Linked DNA regions of Homo sapiens. The protein of the gene in region 1 purifies or fractionates together with the protein of each later gene. This does not show direct contact. Each region holds a gene or a part of one and is shown on either strand. Other genes may lie near its edges.

Region 1 (7,026 bases):
TATATTTTGCTTGTTTGGTTAAAGGGGGGTGGCATTTAATTGGCTCAAAATGCCCCCTTAGAAACCCGATAAAATCTTCCCAGTAGGTGGCTAAAACTGCTTCACAGACTTGCCCACTTGTAACTGCAGTTACCATAGTATATTAGAAGTCTTGAGATAAAAATAAAAGATATAACTATTAGCTATTCCATAATAGGCATCACTCCATTGTCAAGAGTCCCAGTGTTTCAATCTGTAAAGTAACTTTGGGACGAACTGGTTTACTGTGTAGTACTCAGCCTGGTTACCCTGCTTAAGTTTAATATACAGTATTAGAGTTGCTGACCTTGATTTCTTTTAGTGGAGCATTATGATGTCAACTCTACTATTTTCTCTATTTTGTTACCCTTTGGTTTATATCTTGGCCTGATACTTAAAGAAAGGGAAAAAAAAGATAAAGAAGAATAGCAATTCCTCTAAGCGGGTCTATTTCTTTGAGCAGATAATTCTTACCAGAATATCATACTTTAAGCCACACCTAGAGCTTATATAGAATTTTTATATTTCCATAGTTACCTGAAAGCATGCTTCATCCATTTTCAGTTCTGCCCTAGTTGCTAACAGAGGCATTGCCATTGGAAAGTGGCCTTCAATCTCTTTCTAGTTTAGGGATATTAAAATATACTTGGAAATGGGTCCTTTCCTGTATGGATGACATTCTAGATATTTAAGGACTGGTAAGGTCTCTGTTTAATCTTGGGCTTATCCATTTTAAGCCCTGATTAAGCACAAATTCCTTGACCATGCCCAGCAGGGCTGCAGCTCCCAATGCAGTCATCGCTCAGTGCTCTGAAAGGAGCAAGACATGGAGCTCTTCAGTCAGCCGGAAATGTCTAGTCCATCCAGCTGTAACTAAGCAGAGAGAAAGAAGGGTACTGAGGCTGGTGCACTCCACATTCCCACCCACATCCTGCCACATGTTGGTGAGAGTCTGGGGAGCCCCAGCCTACTGGCACGCCTTGTTCCCTCTGAATTTCTGGAGCTTATTTATTTTTACCACCTCCCTCTCTGCTTTCTGTGTCCATTCCTTCTGCTCCTTTTAGGTAACTGCAGCCAGAGAAAGGATGCTGATAGGATTTTTCTGAAGAAAGGTGTTTTTGATCAAGAGAGTTAAAATCACAGAATGAAGTTTGGCTTGTTATACCTTTAAATTCTGTGGCTCATGAAGCATGATAACCAAGTAGTGTGCATGTTGTTCAAGCAGTGGCCCTTTCCTAAAGCTAAGTCATCATTTCTCAAGAGATCATGTGACTGCATAAGCTCATCATTAAAAGCTTAGTTTTCTAGGCTTCACCTGTGATTTCAAATTCAAACAAGCCTATGTTACTGTCATTTGCTCTAAAGACCATTTTTCTAAATCCCTTTGGATTTATATTATCTCTACCAAGGCATGGCCATCTTGGAAAAATATTACATATAAGCAGGATTTGGGGGTAAGAAGGGGCACTTTGTAAGTTGTAAGGTGGATGGTTACTAGCCTGACCTTACTTCTGGTAATCCATATTACCATCCAGTGATAAGTGGTTATATTTTTCAGTCCATTTCCACCTTTATGAACATACTGATCTTGGAAAATTATCTACTCATCCTCTTTTCCATTTCTGTTTAACAGTGATTCATTAGTTTGGGCTGTAGAGTGGATCAGCTGGTGTTTACGAAGGTATCATTGTACCAGTGAGTCACAGAGGCATCTACTGATTCTCATTCACTCTCAGAAAGGAGGAGTATGTAGCTTTCCTCCTCAGGGGAGTAAAGTATTACACCACTTTATAGCCGTTGTTTGAATCATATAATTAAGATTTGATGTGATTATTCTTAGTTGACTTGGGGTTAGACAGACAATTCTTGTATTTGGTTTTGCCTTCCGATTTAATGACATGCAGCCTCTGAGAAGTGAGCAAATTCAATTTTTCTGGTGCTATTATATGGCATTATTAAAAGTACAGTGCCGTGTAGGGAATATAGAGTTATGTTCTTGGTGAATTCATAAGGTATTGCCAGTACGGGTCTATCTGATTTAAGCCCTGCTCTCCCATTTTGTATTTTCCATTCTTTATCTCCCCTTTTCTTTTCGGAGTCTATCTTACCACCAAAGCAGAAATTTTAGGATTCATTCATTTATTCAGTGAGTATTTATTGAGGAATTATGTGCCAGGATAAGCACTGGGCATGCAGTGGTGCGTACGATGGACATAGCCTCTGCACTTTCACAGAACTTACAGTCTAGTGCAGGGACTAGGGAACCAAATCCAGCCCAACACCTGTCTCTGTAAATACATGGTTACTGGAACACAGCCATACCCATTCATTTACATATTGTCTATGGCTGCTCCCACACTGCAGAGGCAGACTTGAATAATTACCACAGGGACCCTGTGGTCTGCAAAGCCAAACATGTTTACTACTTAACCCTTTGAAGAAAAAGTTTGCTGACCCCTCTCTCATGGATAGTGCTGAAGACATTTCATAAATGCAGTCTAGAACTGGAAAAGCCTTGCCAACCCCCTTGAGGAGTGTGTATTCTCCAGAGGGCAGTGGGCTACTGCTGGAATATGGTAAGCAGGGAAAGAAACATGTTGATGTATGAATTTTAGAAAAGTCCCTGTGGCTGCTGTGTAGGAAGTATGTGTCAGGGCGAGAAGCACTAGGTCATAGTAGTTAAGAGTGTAGATCCTGAGCCAGACTATTTGGATTGAAATTTTGACTCTACTACATACTGATTCTAATCTTAGGTAACTTCCCTGTCAGATGTCCCATCTATAAAATAGACATGGCAATCATAGTACCTAACTCATGGGATTGAATAAGTTAATGTATGTGAAGCACTTAGGACACAGTGTTTACCATCATCACTATTATTCCTATTGTAATCTTGTTCAGAGGTGAGGGTGCCTGAATTAAGGCAGTAGCAGTGAGGATGATAGAAAGAAGTGGCCAGATGGAGGCTCTACACAGGTGATAGAATTGACAGGAATTTATGATTAATTGGATGTCAGAAGGGTAGATAAAAGAGAATAAAAAGTTGAGGGTGATTGCAGGTTTTGGATTTCATCAGTTGAGTGAATGGTGGTTTCAGTCCCTGAAGTAAGGAGACAGTCAGTGAAACAGGCTTGTGATGTGAGGTGAATGATAGGTTCAGTTTTTGGTATGTTAAATTTAGGTACTAGAGAGATATGAATAGAAATGTTCAGGAAGAAGTTGCCTGTAAGGTTTTGAGTTCAGAAAGGTGATACGGGCTGGGGAAATGGATGTAGCAGTGATCACTATAAAACTGGTCACTGAGCTTGGAAGAGAATGAAATAACCTAGAATGAGGATGGAATGACAAATAGACTAATAACAGAACCCTGAAGAACACTAACAGTTTAAGATTAGACAAAGAACCATTAAGTCAAAAAAAAAAAAAAAAAACAACTTTTGGAGGAAAATAAACATGAATTTTTAATCCATTAAAATTTCTGTCATTGAAATAGTTGAATTTGAAAAATATTTAAATTTGCAATTTTGGTATTAGCATAGGTCAACCTAAACTATGGCGTGTATTTCACAATTTGATTTCATGTACTATCATATTCTATATTCTTCTAATATTCAATTTCTTCTCTATGGAACATTAGGTAACTTAGTGGATGCTATGGCTATGGATGCTGACATCATATGAGCTGTTCCAACTACTCTTCTATATTTAATAACATTTCCTTACCTCCCTGTTTACCAATTCACTTGAGCCTGTGAAAGGAAAAACTGAAGTGGAGGAGAATGTCTTTCTCCTTTTTGTGTTATACTTGTTTCAGCATCAACAACTGGGAACCAGTTTGTTACAACATTTTATAATGATATCTCTATATTAATTTACTTACAACACTAACATAAGTAAGTATAATTTTGGAAGGAGCCAGGAGATAAATTGGAGAAACGAACACTTTTTCCATCATCAGAATCACCCCTTACCTCTCTCTTACAGTCATGCGTGCCTTACACTTTACTTAGTTAATTCCCAAGAGAATCTTCAGTTCTTCCTGAATATGATTTCCAAAAAAACAGCCTTCTACTCACTTACTCTGACCCTTAGTATGGCTCACAGGTTAGGCTCAAGCTAAGTCTCTGAGGTGGGACAATCAGAAGGCTGATCTAGAGGCTTTCTCAACCCTGTACCACACATGCCTGAAGAAAGGCATCACATTTATACAATCAGGCTGTGTTGCCTTTTCTATTTAGGGGGGAACTTGTGAAAAACTTTGAAATGCTCCCAAAAGATGTCTGTCTAACTCAACTTTCCAGCTTATCTCACCCTTTCCTATTTTACAATCCTGGAAATTACAGAAAACTGAGAGTGATGCAAAGGACTCTTGCCCATTGAAATGGAAATAGTTCTGGTGGAATGCAATTGATTATTGCCCTATGCAGAGTGACCAATTTAACCAGATTTGCATCTATTTGTAAATTCTTTGCAATATTCTTGATGTTTATGTTTGTCCTTTGGATTTATTTTTGAACCAGTTGTAATATCTTACAGGTTCCTTTTTTAATGAGTTAGTTAAAATTTATGTCCCATCTTCAAAAAAAATTATCTTGTTATATATACACATGTATGTTTATACATGCATATCACATCTGTAGAAAAATTCACAAGAAGTTGGTAGCTGTAATTACCCCTGCAGAAGGAAAGGCAGGAAAGCTTGCTTTTCACTACATGCCCTTTTGGATGTTTTGAATTTTGTGTTGTATGCCTATGTTACCTAAACAAATAGAAAATTTTTAAAAATTTCTTTTTGAACTCTTGAAAATCAAGACTTAGCGATCCCTTGACTACTAATTTCACGTCTGAAATAACTGACTTTCTATAAAGGTTTTTGCCTCTAAATAAACTACTAATAGAGAGCAGCCTACACATCAACATCATACTTAGAGACTTACTTTTGTATTTTTTAAGGCAAACTAGTAAACTTTACTTTTCAAGGTAGCTCTAACCCTGTAGAAAGATTTTGGTCGGGTGGTGCTAATTCTATGACTACTCTGTTGGGGAATCACACAGTTTTAGTGTAGAGGGAAGTGGCAGACCCATCAGCCTATTTTGCATTTATTCTGTATGCACCTTGCCTCTTCACCAGCTGTGTCCTCTATAATCCCCTTGTCTAATTATAACGAGCAGCCCTCCCATTAAGCCAGTGATTCTCAGGCTTAGATGTATATTAAATCACCAGGAGTGCTTTTAAAAATCGAAATGCTTAGACCAATTGAATCACAATGTCTGAGGGTAAGACACAGACATTGGCATTTTTTAAAGTGATCAAGGTGATGCCAATGTTGAGAAACAGTGTCTTGTGCGAAGAATGGTACTGGCTTAGGAAAAAACTTAACAAATAATACCTCAGAAGCAAAAGCACTCAGGATATCTGACTGGAAGATCTGCATAGGTGATGAAGACGGCCCAAACAGAAAAGAGAGGCACCCTTTACTGTGAATGAATATCCTTGTACAAAGAATCTGTTTTGACCCATGCTGCTTCTGGAATGGGGCAAACTAGATATGGGGGAGTGGTTTAAAAGCCCGAGCTGACTTAGTTACAGATATTAGCTTTTTTTATACTTCTGATTTCAGATAAACTCTCAGTGAGTAAAAAATACCAAATCGGGACTCTGCATATCCCCGCCTTGTTCCTCTGCCATTTGGGGCACTGAGCCAGCCTGCTGACAGTGACATCCATCTAATACCACTGCCACCATATGGTTGTGCTACCGACAAAAGGTTATATTTATCACACACGGTACAACTGGGAAAACCACATACTGTACAAACATGACCTATTAAGCATCTGTTTTAATCAAAGATTCTAGAACTTCTTTGCTCTAACCCTTAAAAATATGCTTTATTAAGAGGTCTTTGATAGAGAAGTAGATTTGTAAAGGGAGAAGTAAAAATGCATCCTTTCATTAATTTTGAAATAGTAAGGCGAGGAGATAGCCTATTTCTTGGTATTTCTTCTCTACCCTGAAAGATATCTCCTAATGGGAAGTCCTGATTAATGGCCCGCTTGTATTCCAAACTGTTTTATTGTTGCCTCAGCCTTTTTCAAAACCTGAAAATTGGTCTCATGAGCTCTACTGTGGTGGTTTGCCTTCATGTACTCATTGTATATCCCCTCCCTTTTGTATAGGAAGACAGAGATGTCAATGACCCCATGCCCAACCGAGGCGGCAATGGACTAGCTCCTGGGGAGGACAGATTCAAACCTGTGGTACCATGGCCTCATGTTGAAGGAGTAGAAGTGGACTTAGAGTCTATTAGAAGAATAAACAAGGCCAAAAATGAACAAGAGCACCATGCTGGAGGAGATTCCCAGAAAGATATCATGCAGAGGCAGTATCTCACATTTAAGCCTCAGACATTCACCTACCATGATCCTGTGCTTCGCCCAGGGATCCTCGGTAACTTTGAACCCAAAGAACCTGAGCCTCCTGGAGTGGTTGGTGGCCCTGGAGAGAAAGCCAAGCCATTGGTTTTGGGACCAGAATTCAAACAAGCAATTCAAGCCAGCATTAAAGAGTTTGGATTTAACATGGTGGCAAGTGACATGATCTCACTGGACCGCAGCGTCAATGACTTACGCCAAGAAGAGTAAGCACACATCCTCTTCTTTCTAAAAATGGGGCAACTGTTGTTTTCATAGGTTTTTAGGTTTAGTTAGATTGTTAGAATGAAGAAATAATTATTGATGCCTTTATTTCAAGGAAATAAGAGGATCTTTGAACAGCAAAATGGTCAGAAGGAGGCAGTCCCTCCATTTATGCCATTGTATTGAAGGTGGGCTGTATAAAATTCTGGGGCCCTCTACGTCAGTGCTATTCAAAATATGGTCCCCAGACTGGCACTGGTCAATGAATTTTTTGTTACCAGTCCACAGTGAGAAAATGAGCTTGCACCAGGATGTAAGTCAACTACACTATTAAATATTTTGTTTAGTTTAAGTGACAACTTTTTAATAGCA
Region 2 (7,208 bases), on another chromosome or scaffold:
ACTAGCTTTCTCTTTTCAGAGGTGTGTAATATGCTAACACTATCTGGTGAATTTTCACAATTTCAGTTCTAGAATTTCCATTTGGTTCTTTATAATTTACAGGCTTGTGATAAAATTCTTAACCTTGTCTTTTATCCTCTTAACCATATTAAGCATAATTATTTAAAAGTCTTTGTGAAAACTCCATTTTTTGATCCCCTAGAGCTCACTTGTCTGTTACTGTTCTTGTTTTTGTTTCAGATACAGGGCCTCATTCTATCACCGAGGCTAGAGTGCAGCAGTGTGATCTTGGCTCACTGCAGCCTTGACCTCCTGGGCTCAAGCCATCCTCCTGCCTCAGACTCTGGAGGTGCATGCTCAGCTAATTATTATTATTATTAGTTTTTTAGAAACAGGGTGTCACTATGTTGTCCAGGCTTGCTCTTGTTTTTTGCAACCATTTTGTCTTTTCTCCTTGGATGCCTACTTATTTTTGATTCAGTGTTGAACACTGCATATGAACAATTGTAGAAGTAATTTGAGACCATGGATGAGGTTATCATTCCCAGGGAAGATTTACATTTGCTGCTGGCAAGGACTGACATGATTTGAATGGAGTCCCAAACAACTTGTGGTCCCAAAACAGTACAGTGGGATACCTCCTTGGTGGTACCAAGCCTCCAAATTTTGTCGTCCTAGGGCAATGAGAGTGTTAAAAGTGCTGCTCAGAGTCCTAGTGTCTCAAACATTCATCTGGAATTGGCAGATGCCTTTCAAGAAAAAGCAGCCATAAACCACTCACCTCTCTCATGTCCTTTCTCTCTGATATTGGCCTCATAATTATTCACTGCCTTTTTAGTTCTCTGAAGCTGTCTGAAAACTAAAGTCCTCCAGTGACTTTTTCTTTTTTAAAGACAGGGTCTTTCTCTGTTGCCCAGGCTGGAGTATAGTGGTACGATCATAGCTTACTGTAACCTTGAGCTCATGGGCTCAAGTGATCCTCCTGTTGCAGCCTCCCAACTAGGCCTATAGACATGCATCACCATGCCCTGTTAATTTTTAAATTTTTTTGAAGAGATGGGGTTGACCAGGCTGGTCTTGAACTCCTGGGCTCAAGCAATCCTCCTACCTCAGCCTCCCAAAGCGCTGCGATTATACGCCTCCACAGACTTTTCAATTCCACCTATAGGAAAGTCCCATGGGAATTGGAATTTAGCTATAACATGTCGTTTCTTGTACCAGTTATTAAATAATGTCTTTCAGCTCTATTCTCCCTTCCCACCTCTAGACACTGCTTCTGATGCCAGGGCTGAGACTCTAAAAAACATATTTCTCATTGGCAAATAAAGAAGATCTGATCTAATATTCCCTATTAGACTAAGCTGATAGGTTGATAGAGGGAGACCACAGGGCCACTTCCTGTGAGCATCACCCCAGCTAGGCTTCTTCAACAAGGCAGCAGCACATTCTTCCCACAGAAGCTGAATCCAGTTTAAGTTTTTCCAAGACTTGCAGAACCAGCCTCAGTATGCCTTCTCCTTAGAGATCTGGGTGAGAGTCTCCCAGTGCCCTCTTTAGAGGGCTTACTCCCAGCTCCACAGCCACCCCTCATCCATAGTGTGTGTCTAAGTCCCGTAGGGACCCTCCTCAGAGGTCTGAGTCCCATCCCCATGGGATCTCTCCTCTGGGCTCAATGACCCCAGCCCCAGCTGGTCAACACACCTCCTCAGAGATCTGAATTCCAGCTCTGCAAGCCCTTCCTTTAAGCTGTAATAATTCCAGCTTCTCTTTCATCTTTGAGCTCTAGGGGTGGTAGCTGTGTCCTATGTTTGTAACTCCATATCTTGGGATTTTCTTTTTATTATTTTAAATTTACTTCCTGTTAACTATTGTTTATATTCAGTTCCCTTTGTTTAAATAACTGATGCACTTTCTCTCTCTTCTGTGGTTTGAAGGTTTGTGTCCCCTTCAAAATTAATGTTGAAACTTAATCCCGGGCCAGGCGCGGTGGCTCACACCTGTAATCCCAGCACTTTGGAAGGCCGAGGTGGATGGATCACCTGAGGCCAGGAGTTTGAGACCAGCCTGGTCAACATGGTGAGACCCTGTCTCTACTAAAAATGAAAAATTAGCCAGGTGCGGTGGCGTGCGCCTGTAGTCCCAGCTACTTGGGAGGCTGAGGCAGGAGAATGGCTGGAACCTGAGAGGCAGAGGTTGCAGTGAGCAGAGATCGTGCCACTGCACACCAGCCTGGGCGACAGAGCGAGACTCTTGTCTCAAAAAAAAAAAAAAAAAAAAAAGAATTGAAAGGTTTTTTTAGGGTTACTTAGCAAGTTACCTACAAGTGGTGAGAATATTAAAGTCCCTTTCAAGTCAGAACATTTAATTTTTTTACAAGTATATTAACAACTTTATTTCCTGTTAACTACAACTATCACTTATATTCACTTCTGTCTATTCAAATAACTGTTGTGCTTTCTGTCTCTTCTATGGTTTGAAGAGACAGAAAGATTTGTGTCTCCTCTAAAATTAATGTTGAAACTTAATCCCCACTTGAGGTCCCGACGTATTAACAATCCTGTCACTTTGCTTAACTATGATTTTCTTAAATTCTTTCTTTTAGGGTATAAAATTTTAGTTTTAATCCCCAAAAAGCCCTGGGGAAGGTGATTTAGGGAGTGATGGTATTAATTACTAAAAAATTTATATAATGTTTGGGGTAAAGGGTACTTGGAGTCACAGGCATCATTGCCAAAATAAAGAGATTTGGGAAATGTAGTACTAACCACAGCAAAACCCAGCTCTATATTTAGCGGATGAGGCCACATGGATTTTAGAAAGGGCGGGCTGCAGAGGTCTTGGCTAATACTGGAAAAGAGATTTAATTTGAAAGTGAACAGTCTGTTCTATTCCTTAACATATTTTTGGCTACTAGATGGTCAAGCCATTGCGCAAATAATTGCACCATCCTTGTCTTATTCAAGGTGGGCCGTTCATTTCTTAAAATTACCAGTGAGCAACATGGGAAGCAGCAGAGACGGCTATCGATTACCCCGTAGGGAGTGCCTGTGCTGAATGCCAAGGGCTTCCCTTTCCTGACAGACATCTTTTATGCAGCTGAATCATCTGTATGCAAAACATCAGCCAACGGTGCCTCGGAAAAACAACTGGCTGCTGGGCAAACCAGGTGTGGGCTCCAGCTTCCACCTGCTACTACTGTCGTGCAGCCACGGGCACTCTGGGTGATCCTCACTGGCCTGGGGCTGGTCATCTGCTGCTAGATGACCTTCGCTGACTCTCTACATTGATATTCCGACACAGTGTTCTCTAGAAACCGCATGAGCCAGGAAAGGTGTTTCCTAAAGGAGCAGGGGCCGAGCCTCACGCCGAAACACGTCTGTAACACGTACAGTCACGCGTCCCATGCATCCATGCATTCTGAGACATGCGTCTCGGTTGTGGGATCATCACAAGGTAACTTACACAAACTCAGATGGCACAGCCACTACACAACTAGGCAGCTGATGCGGTCCGCTGCTGCTAGGCCGCAAACCCGCACCGCGTGTGAGGTGCGTTATTCCCCTGGCACGGTAATGACATACCTGTACGTGTATCTCCAAATACAGGAGAGGAAATGTCCTTAGCTAAGCCCTCACCAGAGGACAGGAAGTTTCCAGCTCCGTTATCATGTTATGGGACCACCGTCATATACACGGTCCTCCTCAGACCAAAAGGTCGTTCGTTATACGGCACATGTGGTTCTTCCAAGACCCTTTTCCATCTTTCTGTCACATCCGTGCCTGAGTAAAAAGTGGCCCTGAACTCAACCGTCCAGAGTTGGCGGCAGAACTAGCACCACTGGCCCGCTCCACATGTGGAAGGCGCTGGGCAAGGGCCGCCGCAGACCCCATCAGGATTAATCCCCCGAAAACCTTTCACTCGGGTAGCTGGCACACACCGCGTCAGGGCAGAGGGCGCGCGGGACTACTTTCCGCGGACCCTCGGAGCGGGCGGAGGGATCCGCGCAGGCGGGACGGGGCAGAGGCGGGGGCAGGGGCGGGGGCAGGGGCGGGGGCAGGGGCGGGGCAGAGGCGGGGCAGGGGCGGGGCAGGGGCGGGGGAAGGGGCGGGGAAAGGGGGTGCGGGCCGGGGCGCGGTCAGGGAGGAGGGCGGGGGCCAGGACCGGGAGCTCGGGGCACTGCGCCTGCGCCGTCGCCACCGGTCAGCCCGCGCGAGGGGTCGGCGTTCATTCCTGCCGCTGCCGCCGCCGCCGCCGAGGTCCCGCACCAGCCATGGCGCAGATCCTCCCTGTTCGCTTTCAGGAGCACTTCCAGGTGAGGCCCGGCGGGCTGGGGGGCTGCCCTGTCAGCCGCGCCTCCGCCGGGCCGGACTGCCAGGCTTGACCCCGCGCCCCCAGCCCCGCTGAGCCGCTGCCCAGCTGGCCGCGCCGATTTCCGACCTCCCACCTGGGCTGGGGCTGCGGCGTCCCGGGCGCGGCGGCCGCTCCTGAGGACCCGCTTGGGTGCCGTCGCCGAAGCCCGTTACCGGCGGGGCCGGCTGGGGAATGGTGGGGGTGGAAGCCAACGCCCCCTGGGACGCCCCGCTCAGTGCCCGCGAGGAGGCACACAAATTCCCGCTGCAGGCAGGGCAACCCAAGGGCCGCGCGGATCCCACAGCTCCACGCCCCTCCTTGGCGTCCTGCGGTCCTTATTCGCCCCTGAGTTTGCCTCTGTGATCGGTTTTCGTCCCCAGGGCGGCTTCGCCTGGGAGGACCGTGAACATGCGTGACCCAAGAGAAAAATTTCTCAGGGCCAAGCCTAAATAGGGCTTTTCAATGCAGTAACACCCCCAAAGCCTGCCTTTTTAATAAGGTCCCAGTTTGTTCTCCATTTGTTTGTGTTCAGAAACATAAGGACTGGCCCCCTGCTTTGAGCAAAGGCTCAGGTCGGGCGTCGTGCGGGCCGCTCGCGGGTCTGCCCGGGAGCGGTGCTGGTCCCCACGTTTACCCTGGGAGGTGCGGCAGAGGAGGGATAGCCAGCGGCTCCTCCCTGAGTGCTCTGTGTTAAATCATCACACTACCATTCGTTGCGATTCGCTTACTCTTTTCTAGATGAGGAAACCGAGTCTCAAAAGTGTTAAAGAACTCATCTTCATTCAATAAGAACAGGATTCAGACTCAAGTCTTTTTGACCACAAAGTAGTACATCGAGGAACGTGCTTGCTTGAAAGTTCCTATTTTCACAGTGCAGAGCACTGTTAGCCCTAGATGCAGACGGGAAAAGCCTTGGGAACTGTGTAGTGCAGTCCAGTCCCCTCATTCTGCAGACTGGAAACTTGATATCCAGGGGATCCTGCCAGGGTCACTTGGTTAGTGACACAGTGGAAGTTGTATGGAGGTGGGAGTGCCCTGACATCTGTCCGGGCTTCATTCTGCCACTAAGCTAAGCCAGCACCAGTCATGTTGAGGTAGCAAAATACTGCTGCTGCTCATAATAATGATGATGATGTAGTTATCATTTACTGAGCCGTTTCTCTTGCCACTCACTAGACTACTGTATTTTATAAATCTGGTTTAATTTAATCCTCATGATAACTGAGGCAGATAGTGATATCCTGTTTTCTACCATGGGTCACTGAGGTTAATATTCTAATTCCTTCAGCAAAAGTTACATGGCTAGTAAGTGACAAAGCTTGAGTTCTAACCCAGGTCTGATTCCAATGCCTGTGCTTAACCACTATCTAAATATGTTCTTTTCAAAGGGCAAGAAAGCAACAAGATATTTTAGGTGTCCATCAGAGTTTCTAATGTCCATCAGGATTTGTAATGTCCATCAGAGTTGATATGTTCCATTATCTGGAAAATGCTTGTGGCTTGTGGTGGGCAGCCACGTGAATGCAAGTCTGGTTTGTGGTCTCTAACACTGACTGGGTCTTTGAGGCTGCTGTGCATTCTGTAGAGCAAACACTGAGTCAGCACACACTGCCTTCACTACAGACATTTCGAGACTTCAGCCTGTTCCTTAAATCCCTGATCCTGCCACTCCTGCCTTGCAACCAGCAGATGACTTGGAGAAAACTGAAGCCATAACTGGGATGTTTCTCACCTATATGGCTGCAGACTTAGATGTTTGTCTGCAGCCACCCTTTCCTGCCTTCCTGTTACCTCAAAAGTAGGTGTCCTTTCTTGTCTATGTTCTGGATCTGGTATCCTTCTTCCCTATAAGGGAGCCTCGTTCAGTCATAGCCTCCCTTTCCTGTATTTTCATCCTTCTGTCTTGTTGTTTCTTCCTGTTTGTGTTGGGCAATGCTCACCTCTCTTCCATCTGTACAACCAGCAAACTTCTTCCCCCGCTCTTGTCCCCACGAAGCTCTTGTCTCATAGCTGGATGTCATGAAAGAGCTGCTTTAGTGCTTCATTATTTTTATGTTCCACAGTAACCTGCAGTCTGGCTTTTGTCCCCATTTTTTCCCCTGAATCTGTTTTTGCCAAGGTTACAAGCCATCCTGCAGGCTTTTTTGTAAGGGCCACATTCTGTCTCTGTCCCATATTCTTACATTTTTTAACCTTCTAAAAATATGAAAAAGACTTTTAGTTTAGCCATACAAAAGCAGGCTGCAGTTGGCTAATCTTTGCTGTAAAAAATAAAATCAGGCCGAGCATGGTGGCTCACACCTGTAATCCCACCACTTTGGGAGGCCGAGGCGGGTGGATCACCTGAGATCAGGAGTTCGAGACCAGCCTGGCCAACATGGTGAAACCTCGTCTCTACTAAAAATACAGTATTAGCCGGGCGTGTTGGTACGCACCTGTAGTCCCAGCTAGTCAGGAGGCTGAGGCGGGAGAATCTCTTGAACCCGGGAGGCAGAGGTTGCAGTGAGCCAAAATCATGTCACTACTCTCCAGCCTGGGTAACAGACCGAGACTCCGTCTCAAAAAATAAGATGCGATGAGCTAGGTGAGATAAAGCCCATCACACCACACGCATCTTCTGTGATGTCCAGCCGCATTTGATGCTGCACTTTACTGCCTCCTGAGGGTCCTTTCTCTACTGTTTTTGGTTCCACAGTTTCCCAGGGTTTCTCCTTCCTCTCTGCCCACACCCACTGCCCCATGGGCGGCTCTTGTGCATGAGCTTGGAATCTGTCTTGAGCCCCTCTGCTTTTTCATTCAGGACATGCTGCTGGTGATGTTATGTATTCCCATAAGCTTGATGTTCCCAAGCCATCCGA
Region 3 (7,026 bases), on another chromosome or scaffold:
GAGATGGTGTCATGGCAACAATATCAGTCTAGAAGTCAGGAAAACCTGGCTTCTCTTCCTACCTCCCTCTGTCCTTGGACCAGTCACGCCTCCCTACCCATCAGTTGATCTTTGTGGTCCCTTCCAGGTGTGATATTTCTGTCATTCCACTGACTCTGGAAACTCTGGCAAGTCACTCAGCCTTGGACCTCAGTTTTCCCATTGTAAAATGATGAGGCTGGATGTGGTCTCCTTTCCAAAAGTCTGTTTCTGCCTTGGAAAGGCATTTTTCTGCCTCTGAAAACAGGAGTTCTAGCATCTGGCCATGAGTGGAGAGAAAGGTGGTCTAAAGATCTGAAGAGTCCCTGTTCAGGCCTCAAAAATGAAAGCCCATTTTTCCCAGCTTCACCTTTGCAGTGTGGAATTCAGCCACCACTCTGCCACTTAGCAGCATCTCTGAGCCTCAGTTTCCTCATGTATAAAAGGGGAACTAAGCTGGGCGCAGTGGCTCACGCCTGTAATCCCAGCACTTTGGGAGGCTGAGGCAGGGTGGATCGCCTGAAGTCAGGAGTTTTGATACCAGCCTGGCCAACATGGTGAAACCCCGTCTCTACTAAAAATACAAAAAATTAGCTGGGCATGGTGGCGGCTGCCTGTAATCCCAGCTACTCTGGAGGCCAAGGCAGGAGGATCGCTTGAACCCAGGAGGCGGAGGTTGCAGTGAGCCAAGATTGCGCCATTGCACTCCAGCCTGGGCAACAAGAGTGAAATTCCGTCTCTAAATAAATAAATAAAAAAAAATAAAATGGGAACTAATAGTATCCAGTTATAGTGCTATTAATGTGATTATTACATAAATAAATGCACATAAAAGTTTGTATACACAGGAAGTGTTCAATGAGTGACAGCTGCCCCTGTTAATATTTTAACCACCTACAGCAAATGCATCCCTACCTCAGCCTCCTACAACCTTCCTCTGAGCTGAAGGATTACAAATCTCTCAAACCTAGGCTGCCACCAATGTCCTTCCTTAGGGTATCAGGGTTTCCATGTGTCCTATACTGTTCACTTGAGCTGGTCATGGCGGGAGGGAAGATGACACCAGCTGCCTTGTAGGGATAAGGGTGGGGGGCTGAGGCCATGCTCCCTCTGCACTCTCAGATACCCAAGAGCCTGGGAGCTGATTTTGGGGTCTTGCCTATTCTCTCAACACCCCTGCGTGGGTAGGAGTTCCGTTGGAGCCCTCATTCTGTCATCTATGGCAGCTGCTTCCCTTGCAGGTTACCCCTCCTATAAGAATAGAAAGTGCTTTGCAGTTCTCCTTCCTACCCTAACCATGGAGCAGAGCCTCGGGTAGACTCTTGCAGAGACTGGGGTGGGAGGAGCAGGGTGGGAGCTGAAGTTCTAGAATAGTTGCTTCTGGGTTCTAGTCTACCTCTGACTCAGTGGGTGACATTAGGTAAGTCACCTTCCCTCTCTGGACCTTTTTTCTCTCCCCAGCAGTCAGGAATTCTTGCTTGTCCTTGGTGGGGAGGGGCCAGTGGTGTGAAGAGGATTTAGGCTATTGGGAAAACTGTGGGAATGACTCCAAGCCTTAGGAGTTAGGTGCATTCCCCACCCCACATTGTGCTGTGGACCCCGCATGAACTCTGCTTTGTTCCATGTTCACCTGACTCCCAGGCTAGTACTTATTCCAGAGGAGAGCCTCACTGTAACTCAGCTCACCACTGGCATCTCCTGCAATTGTTTACCCATGTTCCTGACCCAGAATGCCTGGCAGAGGCCCGGGAGCCCATAAAGCAGGTATTCATCTTGTCTCCTGACCAGGGACACAAAAGGCTTCTTTTGTCCCTTTATATCTTATAGCTTTTTTTGGTTTTGGTCTTTGCAAGGCGAATCCTGCCATCTCCTCTGTAGATTAAGTCTGTGAATAGGGGAGATGGGGTCACTGCCCACTTCACATGCATGGATATCAGACCCAGCAACTGGTTTCCTATAAAAATGACACTAGAAGGTGCCTCTCTCACTTCTCAAAAGAAGAGAAGAACAAATAGCCTAAAGGTCACCTTGAAACTGTCTCAAGAAGCCCAGATAGGACTCTAAAAAGGAAGCGATGACCTTTTTCTCTTTGGGAAAATAGCAGACTGACTGCAGAACAGTGGGAGGGAGGTCAGCTGGGGACTGGGAGGAAGGCTTCAGGTAGGACATGTGTCTCTAGGAGTGCCAAGGCACTTAGAGGGCTTAGTTGGTCAGATTGCCCAGACTTCATTCAGCTGAGCACCCTCGAAGTTTGCCTTTCCTCTCCTTCCAAGCCAGCCCCATGGCGTCCAGCCCTGGTACAAAGGAAAGACGTAGTCAGAAGCCCTGGGTTCTGCTCCTGATGCTGCCTCTCAGTACCTGTGTGACCATGAACCTTGAGGTTCATGCACCTCATTCTCTGAACCTGACTTGCCTCATCCTTAAGACCAACGTAGAGGCTGAACGTGGGAATGCCTGGTAGAGTGCCCAGCTCACTGTAGTAACTTTCAGGGCCGTGCAGATTCTTCCCCTTTTGGGAGGTCTTCCCAGCCCACAGCAGTCACTTTCTCTTTCTCTCCCAAACCCTTTTCCCTTATTGTTTATCCATAACAGTGGCATTAGGCCTTGCCTGCCCTGTGACATCTCCTGTGTTGAACGGGTGTGTGTGTTTTAATAATAGTTGCCACTTAGTATCTACAGAGTAGTGTCAGGCACTTTATAAAAGCAATCTTATTTAATCCCTACTCAAATCACATGAGATAAAAGCTGTCTCTGTTTTGCAGATGAGGAAATGGCTCAGAGAGGTTATCTTCAGTGATGTCAAATTGCTATTTATTGTCTGTTCGAGTCTTGGCATAGCCTGCTAGAGGGGTGCAGCTGCATCTCCTGCCTCTGGCATTCCCGCAGCAGATGCACATGGCCCTGCACTGAGAAGCGCCCAGCTCACTGCACCTGCACTCAGGAATTGTAGGACTCCCTCTAGGAGTTGGGCACATGTCGTTGGTGGGAGCCCTGTCCCTGCCTTGAGAAAGCTGTAGGTGTTCTGTGTCCAGCTGTGCACCTGTCCTTTGTTTTTGTGAGTCTTCTTGGATGCACCTGAATCCTGCATTCAGGAGGCCTATCCCTTGTTCTCTGCTAGCAACCCTGCCTGCTATCTCTCTTCCGGTGCCCTCTCAGCCATCAGACCAGAGCTTGCTTCTTCCCTGCTTGGGCAGGGAAGTGCCAGGTAAAGGGTGGTCTCCTTTAGCCACAAGGGGTGGCTGACCTTATGACCTCCCGCCTCTGAGCAGAAAGGTGACAGGCTGCTTTTGGTTACCCTCAGGGCCCAGCAGAGTCCCCTGAGAGGCAGCCTCTGTTGGGAGCAGGTGGCACAACTTTGTTTAGCTCTACAAGGCAGGAGGAGTTTAATAGTACTTCTCATTAGCACTGAAATTTGTTTCCAAAGCACTTGTGTGTACAATATTTAATTTAGATCTTCTCAGTGGTCCTGTGGGTTAGAATAGCATGTGGTATTGATGTGTTCATCATTTTACATCTAAGGAAATTGAGCCTTCGGTTGTGACCTGCCTGAGGTCACTTAGCATGCCTGGGACTAATCACTCAAGGCCAAACTCTCTCCTGCCAGGCCAACATGCTGGGTTCTTGTTGGATCAAGGGGGATGAGAGATTTAAAGGGGCTTTGAGGAGAGTCAATGACCAGACACATCCACATTGGTAACCTGGATTGTTGTCAGGAGGGACACCTGTTCCTCCTGTAGGCAGGAAGGGCTAAAGGGTCTGGGTGGTCTGGAGCCTTGACAGCTTTGGCTCAGCTCCAAGTTCTTTTCTACAACTTGAACATACCTGTATTTGCATGAAGGAGGATGAGGGCCAGAGTTGCACTGGGGACTGACATTCTCATAGCCCTTATCTGTGGAGCAGCAAATCTTTGAAATGGAGGACTTGTCCTTTCCCCCAGAATGTTGCATGCCCTCTGGGAGAGAAAAGGAGAGGCAGAGAAATGATTACAATGGAAAACATGTAGGATGGGGTGAAAGGTTAAGATACCTGAGATCTAGTCTCAGCTCTCTGTTGCCCAGCTGTGTGACTTTAGGCAAGGCATAACCTCTCTGAGCCCCTGTTTTCTTTTTTCTTTTTTTTTTTGATACAAGAGTTTCGCTCTTTTTGCCCAGGCTGGAGTGCAATAGTGCAATCTCAGCTCACTGCAACCTCTGCCTCTTGGGTTCAAGCAATTCTCCTGCCTCAGCCTCCTGAGTAGTGGGGATTACAGGCATGTGCCACCACACCTGGCTAATTTTGTATTTTTAGTAGGGATGGGGTTTTGCCGTGTTGGTCAGGCTTGTCTTGAACTCCTGACCTTAGCTGATCCTCCCACCTTGGCCTCCCAAAGTGCTGGATTACAGGCGTAAGCCACTGCTCCTGGCCTGAGCCCGTTTTCTAATTGATAATATAGATACTTAATTTTTCATTTTGTTTTGTTTTGTTTTTTTAGAGATGGGGGATGGGGATCTTCCAATTTTGTTGTCCAGGCTGGTTTTGAATCCCTGGCCTCAAATGATCCTCCCGCCTCAGTCTCCTGAGTAGCTGGGATTATAGGGATGAGCCATCACACCTGACTCCCTATTATTTTATTTTTATTTATTTTTTTGAGATGGAGTCTCACTCTGTCGCCCAGGCTGGAGTGCAGTGAGGCGATCTCGGCTCACAGCAACCTCCGCCTCCAGGTTCAAGTGATTCTCCTACTTCAACCTCCCAAGTAGCTGGGACTACAGGCATGCGCCACCACCCCCAGCTAATTTTTGTATTTTTTTCTTTTCTTTTTTTTTTTTTTTTTTTTTTGAGACAGAGTCTCGCTCTTTTGCACAGGCTGGAGTGCAGAGGCATGATCTCAGCTCACTGCAACCTCCGCCTCCCGGGTTCAAGTGATTCTTCTGCCTCAGCCTCCTGAGTAGCTGGGATTACAGGCACCAACCATCATGCCTGGCTAATTTTTTGGTTTTTTTGTTTGTTTGTTTGTTTGTTTGTTTTTAGTAGAGACAGGGTTTCACCATATTGGCCAGGCTGGTCTCGAACTCCTGACCTCAGGTGATCTGCCCGCCTCAGCCTCCCAAAGTCCTGATATTACAGGCATGAGCCACCGCGCCCGGCCTAATTTTTGTATTTTTAGTAGAGATGGGTTTTCGCCATGTTGGCCAGGCTGGTCTTGAACTCCTGACCTCAGGCGATCTGCCCGTCCCGGCCCCCCAAAGTGCTGGGATTACAGACATGAGCCACTGCACCCGTCCGGTAATTGGTGATATATTTGTTAAATACTTGTTAATTAGCTGCCACTTATTAATTTTTTATTTTGTTTATTTTTGAGACAGGATTTCGCTCTGTCTCCCAGGCTGGAGTGCAGTGGCGCAAAGACGGCTCACTGCAGCTTCAACCTCCCTGGCTCCAGGCAATCCCCCCACCTCAGCCTCCTGAGTAGCTGGGACCACAGGTACAGGTCACCACATCCAGCTAAGCTGCCACTTATTCATATCTAGTTTAGAGGTTGTGAAAGGTACTTGCACAGCTAGAAAACATTGGGGTTTAAGCCCAGATTTGTCTGACTTCAGAGCCTGTGTTCTTTTCATCCTCATGCCCTGATTCCAAGGGCCTTTTCAGTTTAGAAATTCAATTTTTCCCATAATCATTTTGAATTGGGGGAGATTTAAAGACTTTAGTATTTTGAGCCTTGGCTGCTTTCTGTGGATCACTTCTTGGGTTTGGGGAAAAAGCTGACCCACTCCAAGTCCCACTGTGAAGCAAATAACCTTTCTCAGAGGTGGCAGCATGCAGAAAAATACAGGAGTGACGGGGAACTAGAGCTGGGGGCCTGAGGCTGTCTCTGGGAATGCCAGCCCATACACAGCCTCCTTTCCTCCTCACCGCCTCTCCCACCTGCCCCCTTTCCTCCTGAGGCAGGGAGAGAAGGCTCGCTCAGCACACCCAGGACCTGGGTTATTCCTGAGTCATCCATCGCCTGTGTGGGCCTCATTTTGCAGCACTCGCTCCCCCTGCAAATGTCTGAGTCAGGCATGTCTCCCCAAGGTTGTCTGCACACACTGCACTGGGCCAAACTGTCTCTTTAGATGCCGATAAACATCAACTGATACTTTAAAGCAGCCCGTGATTATATGTTGGTATTTTAATCTTATGGGCTAATCTAATTTTAACTGAACTAAGTTTTGGGTTGGGCCTGGATCAGTGGGCTGCCCGCCTTCCCTGGGATCATGCTGACTTCATTTTCTTCCCCCTAAAGCTCATCTAATATACAGAGCCGATTTTGGGGTCTATTAGGCCAGACCTGAGCCCTGAGTTTTTATACTACTTGCCAAGAATCCAGAGTTCCCCCCAAATTACCCCAGCAAATTCTTTCCTGAAAAGATATGTCCTTAAGCAGTTCTAACTGAGATTCAGGATGAAAAGCTCTGTTCCTTCCCAGGCCCCCTTCCCTGTCCCTTGGGAAGCACTTACCCCTAAGCCCAGACTGGCCTTGCCACAGTGCTGAGCCTGTTTGAGACCAGGCCACAGAAGGCGGAGGAGTGATATCACAGCTGTGTGTTAGAGCCCACAAGTTCACTAAACCAATAAATAGCTAACACTTGCATAGCATTTGCTGTATGCCAAGTGAAGCTGGAAGAGGCTGTGTCTTTGCATCAGCCAGCCAGGACCAAGAGCAGCTCGCTAAGATCCTGGGTGGAAGAGGCAGGTCAGCTGAAATCAGCTAGCAGGCATTTAGCATATGGCCATCAAGGAACAAAAGAAGAGTAAACCCAGGCCCTGCTCTTTAGGAGCTTCCAGCCTGCCAGGGCTGGGCGGACTCCTGGCAGAGGCAAAGTACAGAGGGAGCAAGCAGTCCCTGAGGACTGGGGTGTTTAGAGAAAGCCTCTCAAAGGAGGTGGAACATTAGTCTGAGTCTTGAAGGATGGAAAGGAATTAGATAAGCAGGCTATACTTAGTACCAATTTCCATAAGAATGTAAGCCTCTTGAGGACAGGG

The links.
Region 2: the proteins of GALNT7 (region 1) and CLTCL1 purify together in Homo sapiens (affinity purification with mass spectrometry; 2 studies listed by BioGRID and IntAct, with this or other methods). This does not show direct contact.
Region 3: the proteins of GALNT7 (region 1) and SLC9A1 purify together in Homo sapiens (affinity purification with mass spectrometry; 2 studies listed by BioGRID and IntAct, with this or other methods). This does not show direct contact.

The regions. Positions count from the first base shown.
Region 1 is NC_000004.12:173,241,785-173,248,810, forward strand, and holds part of GALNT7 (N-acetylgalactosaminyltransferase 7), read left to right. Parts: intron 1-6,195; coding exon 6,196-6,656; intron 6,657-7,026. UniProt on the Homo sapiens protein: Glycopeptide transferase involved in O-linked oligosaccharide biosynthesis, which catalyzes the transfer of an N-acetyl-D-galactosamine residue to an already glycosylated peptide.
Region 2 is NC_000022.11:19,288,704-19,295,911, reverse strand, and holds the start of CLTCL1 (clathrin heavy chain 2), read left to right. Parts: upstream 1-4,192; 5' UTR 4,193-4,270; coding exon 4,271-4,312; intron 4,313-7,208. UniProt on the Homo sapiens protein: Clathrin is the major protein of the polyhedral coat of coated pits and vesicles. Two different adapter protein complexes link the clathrin lattice either to the plasma membrane or to the trans-Golgi network.
Region 3 is NC_000001.11:27,145,110-27,152,135, reverse strand, and holds part of SLC9A1 (sodium/hydrogen exchanger 1), read left to right. Parts: intron 1-7,026. UniProt on the Homo sapiens protein: Electroneutral Na(+) /H(+) antiporter that extrudes Na(+) in exchange for external protons driven by the inward sodium ion chemical gradient, protecting cells from acidification that occurs from metabolism.